Linked DNA regions of Homo sapiens: region 1 is linked to region 2. Evidence: fine-mapped expression QTL. Tissue or cell type: monocytes after interferon gamma. Region 2 holds a variant in brackets; the other region holds the start of a gene. All regions are shown on one strand. Distances are between the middles of the regions.

The links. PIP is the estimated chance that this variant, and not a neighbour inherited with it, causes the effect.
Region 1: PPHLN1 starts here. The variant in region 2 is fine-mapped to the expression of PPHLN1 in monocytes after interferon gamma (Fairfax 2014, PIP 0.95).

Annotation. Positions count from the first base shown.
Region 1 is chr12:42,323,744-42,328,867 of GRCh38, forward strand. It overlaps PPHLN1 (periphilin 1), which reads left to right and starts at 2,424. Exons shown (of 10, transcript NM_201439.2): 1 at 2,424-2,486. ZCRB1 (zinc finger CCHC-type and RNA binding motif containing 1) reads right to left here and starts at 2,351. Exons shown (of 8, transcript NM_033114.4): 1 at 2,181-2,351; 2 at 276-361. The coding sequence starts at 359. It overlaps MIR7851 (microRNA 7851), which reads right to left and starts at 116; the gene lies at 1-116. RefSeq lists an enhancer at 2,047-2,096.
Region 2 is chr12:42,258,501-42,263,712 of GRCh38, forward strand. No RefSeq gene overlaps it. Among named protein-coding and RNA genes, the nearest start is that of YAF2, 23 kb to the left of the region's middle. The variant G/GTATTTATT (reference allele first, on the strand shown) is at 3,065.

The DNA.
Region 1 (5,124 bases), 65 kb after region 2:
ACCTCAGTCTCCCAGGTAGCTTGTAGAGGCATGGTGGCACACACCTGTATTCCCAGCTACTTGGGAGGATGAGGTGGGAGGATCACCTGAGGGGGCGGGGAGGCTGCAGTGAGCCATGATAGTGCCACTGCACTACAGCCTCGTGCCTCAGTGACAGAATTAGACTGTCTCAAAAAAAGAAAAAAAAAAAAAGGAAAAAAGAATTTGCCAGGGAGAACTATTTGCTTAAGGTTATCTGTATCTCAAATAGCAGTCACTCGATAAGATTTACTTACCCGGTACAAGTCATTGTTTGTCAGGGAAAAAGGCAAGTTGGATACATACACTGTGCTCTTACTTGGAGCCAATCCACCACTCATTTCTAAAAGTGAAAACAAACTTATCAGCAATCAGTCTAAACCAGGATTCTTTTTTTGTTGTTTGAGACGGAGTTTCCCTCTTGTTGCCCAGGCTGGGGTGCAATGGCGTGATCTCGGCTCACTGCAACCTCTGCTTCCCAGGTTCAAGCAATTATCCTGCCTCAGCCTCCCGAGTAGCTGGGATTATAGGCATCCACTACCATGCCTGGCTAATTTTGTATTTTTAGTAGAGACAGTGTTTCACCATGTTGGTCAGGCTGGTCTTGAACTCCTGACCTCAAATGATCCACCTGCCTCAGCCTCCCAAAGTGCTGGGATTACAGGCATGAATCACCACACCTGGCCTAAACCAAGTATTATTAATTCCAAATAAAACCAATACATCAGACCAGTCTGGGTATTATTTGGAAAAAAACAAAAAACAAAAACCAATAAAGTATTAACAATCACCGATTTAATTATGCCAGATGTGTACACCTTCCTTACATTTTAGGAAGTTAGGAACAATGACTCCAGCAGGCTGAATTAAGGAATTCCTTTTTCCCAGTCACCACTTAAAAAAAATTCTTTTTTGGTTCTTCTTCTTTCAAGTATTCTTTATACCAACACTTTCAGTGCCAGATTGTATGGGTAGGGAGACGGGTTTTGAACAGATGAAGGAAAAACCCTGAGGCTACTCCTAACTTCCACTCAGACCATGAGCAAAAAAAATGCTCTATTGAATATGTACTGTATATGTACATTACCTGCACCTTGCTCACCCAGGTCAGAAAGAGCATGGGGACTCAGACAGAACCTTAGCCACTGATTTTTGCTAATACACAGTCATGCTATGCTTAATGAAGGAGGTATGTTCTGAGTGTTACGTGATTTCACAGTGCAGACATCACAGGGTGTACTGAGACAAACCTAGATGGTCTAGCCTATTGCTCCTAGGCTACAACCTGTACAGCATGTTAATGTAGTGAATAATGTAGACAGTTGAAACACAATGGTAAATATTTACATAGCTAAACACAGAAAACGTACACTAAAAATATGGTACAATGTATTACACTCTTAGGAGACCACTGTGGTATATGTGGTTTGTTGTTAATCAAAAAGTTGTTATGCTGTGCATGCCTGTACTATGGCTGGGTACCTTTTTTGCTTGTCTTAATATTTTTTTTCTCTGGAGTGGTGTGTTAAGAGGAAAATTTTCTTTTCCCCTTTTAGTATGATGTTAAGGAGTAAATTTAAGCTTTATGTATCGACAATATAAACTTCTTTCGAAACGCTAATTTTGCTTATTGCCAAATTATGAAATGATACATTATATAAATAGGCTTGGTGCCTCGAAGAGACAGACCTGTAGGTATGTGTGTATATGTATATAAAGTTTACAAATGTAATCAGTAATTTTCACATCTTATCTTACAAAGTCAGCAAATTACCGTGAAAATATCAGGCTCAACCAAATTCAAATTTCTGATTTAAAAAGAGCGTGCGGTGTGTATTTGAGATGGGAAGATCAACCATCACAAATGGAAAAATACTGACTCTATGGCATGCCAATTCGTGAAGGAATGAGAAAACTGCCTCATGTTTGGTGTTATGGGGGAATTATTTAGAAAACTTCAGGAACTCAACATAGATACGTCGCTTTTTAAGTTTCTCATTTGAAACTATGCGTTACACGTTCTGCTGAGAGCCGCGAAGGCAGGCAGAGGTTAAGGTCCTGGAATAAAAAGGGTGGCGGGAGAGAGGGGCAGAGCGTTTTGGCAGCCGAGTCTGGGGAGGGGGCCCCGCAGGAGAGAAGGCCGCAGCTGAGGAGGCGTTTACCTTCAGGTGGGTTGGGCCTGGGAGACCAGAAGAGTGCGAGCCCTCGGCTCAGCTGGGGCTCAACCCCGACTCTTCGTAGCCGCTCGCAGCGGCCTTGGCATCACGAGTCCTGGGAGGGGTCAGGCGCGGAGAGCAGATAATAGCAGCCACGGTGCTTCTTCCCGACTGTTTGAGATCCGGGCCCCGAAGGCGGGCCCAGAGGCGAGCGCTTCGCTAACGTCATTGCGCGCGCCGGAAGTACCTACCTGGGATAACGGCGGCGAGCGGACGGCTGCATTTACGGGGTCTCCCGGAGGGCCAGAGTCGGTGAGCGCTTTTTACCTTTCCCAGAGATGGATGCAGAGCGTGTGCGGGCTGCTAAACGGGGGGGAGTGGGCGGGAGTTTTCTGTGTCGGGTCCTGGATTCTCCTGCCTTTGAATTGTGTGACAATTCTGCCCATGCGGTTGAGGGTGGAGAGACGCAGTGGAGTTTGGAATAAAGGGAAGTATTGAGTCTAAGATAGGGGTTCGCCTCTCTGTAGCGCCTTAATATGCAAGAAGACGACTGAGCTAGGTAACTTCAGTGACCCGAGAGGAGTCAGGAAGTCGGTAATTTTACTGAAGGTGTTCACGGTACCCAGCTATTAGGCACTTTGGGAACTACAAAATAAACAGACCTTTTATGTTTTGTTTTGTTTTGTTTTCTGGTGAAGATCTCAGTCTAGTTGGGGAGACGAGGTCAACTTGGGGAGAGTTGGATTCACAGAATGACTCATCTTTAGTATGGGTATGGACAAGTGTTGATCTTCTTGGCACCTTTTCTCTTCCTGTAAATCTATAATGGCTACGCACTGCTTTTTCTCTAAGAGGCCATAACATGCCCACCATTCCTACAGAAAAATCAGAACGTAATGCAAGGTAATTTATACTTCTGCCTACCAGCACATACAGACCAGGCCTCTAACCACTCCCTGGGAGCCTGCGTTCCAGCAGCCTGGAACCCACAGCCTCTCCTGGAGCCTGCACAATCAATCCAGAGTGAAGCCGATGTCTTCTATAGAGACGGAAGTACAATCCATCCAGGGCGCAGCTGAATTTTGAGAGGCCTGAATGCCTCCGTGGCCGACAGGAGACCGCTGGCACTAATTCTCTAGGCATACTTGTGGCCAGCCAAACTTACCATGCTTTACATCTCTGTTATCCTTGGTTACCGCCCAAGATGTAAGCTTCTGTGGTCTTCTGTGCTATAGTCTCATTTCCATGCTGCTTTGTGCTTTCTTTCGACTTAGGCTATCACTGCTTCTTCGTTTCTTCCCCATTTAACCCCTCAACACCCCATCTGTGCTTTCTGAAACCTCTATTTCCTGCTTAAACTATTTTACATATTCAACTTCTTTAGTGAAATTCTCCTTCATCTCCTAACCTTAACTATTGATAACACGTAGATTTTCCTGCCAGCCATTTCAGTTGAGCCCTTTCTCTGACCCTGCATTTAAAGGTTGGGCATGGCTGTAGCCATGTTGAACGGATTTCAATTCCTCAGAATACTTTCTTCCCTCAGTATCTTCACAAAGGCTCTTTTCTCTCTCTGGGACATTTGAGCTCCCTGTTTCCTCCTATCTTTTTCTGGATAACTTCTATTAAAGATCTGAGTTTAGCTGTCACTTTACTTGAGGGGTATACCCTAACTTCCATAGAGTTAGGTATTTTTGCTATGTACTCTTAGCTGTCCTGCACTTCCCTCACGGCATTTATCACATGTATCTTAATTGCTTCTTTGCCATCCCTACTAAGCGAGACTGTCGGTGAGGGACTGTGTTTGTCTCGTTTATCTTTGTAACTCCAGTAGCTAATACAGTTCTTGGCACATAAGACAGTCAGTTATTTCTTGAATGATTGCAGGTGCTGAAGGTATGCTGCAGAGATCAGGCAGTTAACGTTAATGAATACTTCACCCTTAGAAGGGGTCACCTGCCACTCAGCTACAGCTGATTGTGGCTATGTGAGAATATGATCCCAGTTTTGCCAGAACATCTAATTTTTTCAAAAAAAGTTGGAAATACCATTTTTTAAAAAGCATCCTCTCCCAGTTTTTAAATGTTGTCAGTGGAATAGAATTTTATTAAAAAAAAAAAAGTGGGTCAAACACAAGTCTCATATGGCCTATCAGTCACTAGTTTGGAATCTGTTTTAAGTCTTGTAGGGTTTATATAATGGGCTTTGTGGAGAATAATAGGTTTTGAGTTGGGCCTTGATGGACCGTTGGATGTTGAATGAGAGAATGGAAAAAGATATCCCGTTTGGAAAATAAACAGCTCCGTGGTAGTATGTGTTAGTCTGTTTGTGGCACAGTAAGGAAACAGGCATAATTATATGCTTTTGGAGAGAATAGAAGGTTAGATATAATAGAAGGAGGCATATGGAAGATAGAAGTTTGGATTTATTATGGTTAATAAAAAACCTCTTGGATTCTTGATCCTGGAAACTTCACATTATGAATATGCGTTAACAGTTGATTATCCTTTTTTAGGGTAAAATGGAGGGTAAAACACTGGAAGGAGGCTGACCGGTTAAGGCCTTAACTTCCATCCATATATGAAATAAAATTCAGATTTATAAATATTATATGTAGGCAGACATCTGGCATTTTTGTTTACTTGTGTAATTTCAGTTAATTGATCAATTATAATGGACAATCAGGGATCTCCTACTAAGTTTAGTGCAGTACATTCGGGCTTATAAAAGAAGTATCCTTAAAGCGTTGGAAAGTCAAGTGACTTGTGAAACTAGTAGAGAATGCAGTACTTTTTATTTTTTTATTTTTTGAGACGGTGTCTTGCTCTGTTGCCCAGGCTGGAGTGCAGTGGCACGATCATGGCTCACTGCAACCTCCATCTCCCAGGTTCAAGGGATTCTCCTGCCTCAACTTCCTGAGTAGCTGGAATTACAGGCATGTCCCACCATG
Region 2 (5,212 bases):
CTCAGCCTCCCAAAATGATGAGGTTACAGGCATGAGCGACCACACCTGGCCTTACTTAACATTAATTGGATTAAAATATATATATATATATATATATATATATATATATATATATATATATATGCAAAATTTTTTTTTTTGAGACGGAGTCTCTCTTTGTCACCCAGGCTGGAGTGCAGTGGCACGATTTCGGTTCACTGCAACATCTGCTTGCCAGGTTCAAGCGATTTTCCTGCCTAAAACTCCCAGAGTAGCTGAGATTACAGGTGTGCACTACCTACCTGGCTTTTTTTTTTTTTTTTTTTTTTTTTTTTTTTAGTACAGACAGGGTTTCATCATGTTGGTCATGCTGGTCTCGACCTGAAATGATCCACCGGCCTCAGTCTCCCAGAGTGCTGGGATTCCAGATGTGAGCCACCGTGCCCGGCCAGAATTAAATATATTTAAAAATTTTTAATATTAATAAATTTGTAAAGAAGCAAAAACCAGTGGTTGGGGCATTATCTATAGCCAGTGTAAAAAGAAAAAAATTACTCAGTGATACCTGTTGAAGCACAGTTAGGAAGATTTTATTCAGTACCACTGCGATAGGAAGAGGGACCACCACAATGAGGTCTTGCAGTGGGAAAGAGAGATTGGGCTCAACTTCAATAACATCACAGTGGGAATTATAGCCAAGGAGCAGAGTGGGAGTCAGTGGATAGAAATTTACAAAGAAGAAATGTCAGGGGTAAAGAGGATTCAAGCTAAACCAAACTAACAGGATGTTTCCTGAAGACAGGCCAGGGTGACCAGATATCACCTGGGGAACAGGGAGAATGAGGAACCTGATCAGGTATTGAAGATGATCAGATATCATGGATGAGGGCAGTTCTTGTCAAATTCACCCAGCAGGGTTCTTTGCTAAAATGGGATTTTACAAGAAAGTGGACAAATGGGCTTAGCAGAAGGTTAAGAAGCCTGACTAGGCTGGGCGCGGTGGATCACGCCTGTAATCCCAGCACTTTGGGAGGCCGAGGCGGGCGGATCACGAGGTCAGGAGATCGAGACCATCCTGGCTAACACGGTGAAACCCCGTCTCTACTAAAAATACAAAAAATTAGCCGGGCATGGTGGCGGGCGCCTGTAGTCCCAGCTACTCGGGAGGCTGAGGCAGGAGAATGGCGTGAACCCGGGAGGCGGAGCTTGCAGTGAGCCGAGATCGCGCCACTGCACTCCAGCCTGGGGGAGAGAACAAGACTCCTCTCAAAAATAAAAAAAAATAAAAAGAAGCCTGACTAAAGTTTGGCCAAGCAAGGGATCTTTTGTCACCAGATTGCCAGGATTCAGATTCTGCTTCTGAAGCATACTAGCTGTGTAACTGTGGGCAAATTACTTAACCCATGGCTCAGTTTTCACATCTGTAAAATGGGACTAATAATAATATGTACTTACAGGATTATTATGAGGGTTAAACCACTTAATATATGTACAGCCCTTGGGAAAAGTGCCTTATTAGTTGGGTGTGGTGACGTGCACCTGTAGTACAAGCTACTAGGGAGGCCGAGGTAGGAAAAATCTCTTGAACCTGGGAGGTGGAGGTTGAAGTTAGCTGAGATTGCACCATTGCACTCAGCCTGGGTGACAGAGAGAGACTTTGTCTGGAAAAAGAAAGAAAGAAAAGAAAGGAAAAAAGAAAGAAAGGAAAGAAAGAAAGAAGAGAGAGAGGAAGGAAGGAAGGAAAGAAGGAAGGGCACCTAGCACTTATATGTAATATCTAAGTGCCAGCTGTTTTTCTGAGGCAGCTCAACACAATGGCTAGACTCTAGAGCCAAACTGACAGTTTCTAATCCCAGTGCTACCACTGTCTACCTGAATATTGGAGAAGTTACTTAACTCTCCTGTGCCTCAGTTTCCTCACCTATCAAATGGAGTGATAATAGTACTTGCCGGGAGGCGGAGGTTACAGTGAGCCAAGATCACACAATTGCCCTCCAGTCTGGGCGACAGAGCAAGACTCCATCTCAAAAAAAAAAAAACAAAAAAGAATTATTGTGGGTTGATAACACAAAGTACTGTGGCTGGTACGGTAAGTTCTATGCAAATGTTTGCTTTTACCTGGCTTACCTGAGTGCCACTGGGGCTTGAAAAGGAGCATTGCTCTTTTCTTTCCTCTGACTCATGGAAGCCCAAACAGCTTAGTGGAATTGTCAGGTAGCCCATCCTCCCTGGACTCACTGAATACTCTCATGGGACATCTAGGCCACCTGCCAGGATTCGTTCTGCCTAGGGTGCCCTGTCCCTAGGCAAAAGAACAATTCAGGCCAGGCAAGGTGTTTCATGCCTGTAATCCCAGCACTTTGGAGGCCGAGGCGGGCGGATCACTCGAGTTCAGGAGTTTGAAATAAGCCTGGCCAACATGGCAAAACCCCATCTCTACTAAAAGTACAAAAACTAGCCTGGCGTGGTGGTGGGCACCTGTAATCCCACGTACTTGAGAAGCTAAGGCATGAGAATCACTTGAACCCGGGAGGTGGAAGGTGCAGTGAGCCGAGATCATGCCAGTGCACTCCAGCCTGAGCAACAGGGCGAGACTCTATCTCAAAAATTAAAAAAGAAAAAAAAAACAATTCAGGCAAAACAACAATTATGATTATTTATATTTTATTTTAGAGACAAAGTCTCACTTTGTCACTCAGGCTGAAGTCCAGTGGCACAAACATGGCTCACTGCACTCTGACCTCCAGGCTTAGGCAATCCTCCTGCCTCAGCCTCTTGAGTAGCTGGGACTACAGGTTCATGCCACCACACCCGGCTAATTTTTGTATTTTTTGTAGAGATGGGGTTTCGCCATGTTGCCCAGGCTGATCTTGTTGCCCAGGGTGCTCAAGTGATCCACCCGCCTCAACCTCCCGAAATGCTGGGGTTACAGGCATGAGCCACTGCACCCAGCCTATTTATACAAATTAAAACAAGGAGAGAGGTATAGAATCAGCTGAAGGTTGTAACATATTTGAGTTGGCTCCAGTTCTATTCTGGAACTGTTTTTTATCTAAGTATTTTTTGTGTCTAAATATTTCTCAAA[G/GTATTTATT]TATTTATTTATTTATTTATTTATTTATTATACTTTAGGTTTTAGGGTACATGTGCACAATGTGCAGGTTAGTTACATATGTATACATGTGCCATGCTGGTGCGCTGCACCCACTAACTCGTCATCTAGCATTAGGTATATCTCCCACTGCTATCCCTCCCCCCTCCCCCCACCCCTTCTCAAAGTATTTATCACTTAGGTCCTCTGGACCTCAGTTTTCTCGTTTGCAAAATGAAAGGATTGTACTCAAAAATCTCTCACGATTGTTCTTGGTATGAAATTCTAAAATTCTATCATTCTATTCACATAATACATAGTGTTTGGGCGCGGTGTGGCCTAGGAGAGATGAAATCTTAGTTTCTATTTGAATCAAGGCCAAAACTCAAATGCCACTGTTGGTGACAGCTGCCTAAAGTGTAGATCTCAACAAACCTTATACTCTCTTTTTATTATGAAGTGAAAGGACCAAAATAAATTGTAACCTTTATAGTGATATGTATTTCTATGGCTAAATTGCTATAAAACTCCTGAACTACTTGAAAATAATAGAATGTTACAGGTCTGAAAGTTTCTAAAATCTTCTCAAATCCAAGCATAAATTTTAAGTTTAAATGAGGCATATATTACACACACACACACACACACACACACGTAAAAGTGCTTTGTAGAGTTGATACATTTTACAAATGTAAGATGTGATCACGTATAAAATCAATCTGGTCTTATTTTAATAGAAGAGCTTTATAATAATAATTTGTGGAGATGGAAATCTCTAGTTATTTAGCAAGCATAGAGAAATTCTTGCTTCTAAACTGACATCAAAGCATTTCTAGTTGATAAGATGTCCAAGTAAGATTTCATATATATGAAGTCATGCCAGTTGCCAGAAAGAGAAGCAGCTTTACTTTGAGGGTTTTGAGTTTCCACATTTGCTTTTAGCTTCTTTGCCAGAGGCACATACTTCTCCTCCACCCCAAGAAATTTCTATGATGTTTTTAATAGCAAGGCATTTTTTCCACGGCCTTTTTACTTTTATGATTGCAGAATGAATAATCGGTTGGCAAAATTTGTTAATCTATTATTATGACTCCTAGTTTATCATGTAATGGTTAATTCTATAGTATTCTTTAAAATATGGCTTGTGTTCATCTTTGTAGTAATACAGTGATCTATTTACCAATGTATATTTATTTGTAAGACAATTTTTTGTACAAAACCATATTATCATGCCTGAAACAATATTTACAACATTAGCACACCTCTTCACATATTCTGCAGCATCTCTTTTGATGTTTCTTGATCATATATTCACTCTTTCACTAGTCACTGCAGGAGGTCTCCAGATTATTATTAACCAAGGTTTTCATTATATGTATGCAATCATTTTCTAAAATTTATATTTCAATTCATATAGTAAAATTCACTCATCTATGAATTTCAACTAATGCATTCAGTCATGTAACCACTAGCCTTGTCAAGATATAAAATGATTCCAATATCCAAAAATATTCGCTTATGCTACTCCTTTGTAGTCAACCCTTTTACCCAGCTCTAACCAGGTGGCAACTACTGATCTGGTTTCCACTCCTAGAGTTGCCTTTCCCAGAATGTCATACAAATGAAATCATACAGCATGTAGCCTTTCCTGTCTGGCTTCTTTCACCTAAAATAATGCATTTGAGATTCCTTAATGGGGTTGCTTGTATCAATAGCTTGTTCCTTTTTATTGCAGAATAGTATTCCTTTATGTGTATGTACCACAGTTTGTTGACTCATTGCCCAGTATAAGGACATCTGGGTTGTTTCCAGTTTTTGGCGATTATGAATAAAGCTGCAGTAAACATTTGCATGCAGTATTCTGTGTGACTATAAGTTTTCATTTCTCTTGGGTAAATATTTTGGAGTGGGATTGCTGGATCACATGGTATTTTATATTTAAATCAGTAAGAAACTTCCAAACTTTTTCTCAAGCTAGCTGTACCATTTTTCACTCCCCCTAGCTATATGTGAGAGTTCCAGTTGTCCCAAATACTCATCAACATTTGATACTGTCAATCTTTATTTTACTATAGCCATTCTAGTGTGTACTAGCATCTCATTGTGATTTCAATTTGTATTTCCTTTTTGACAAATAATGTTGAACATTTT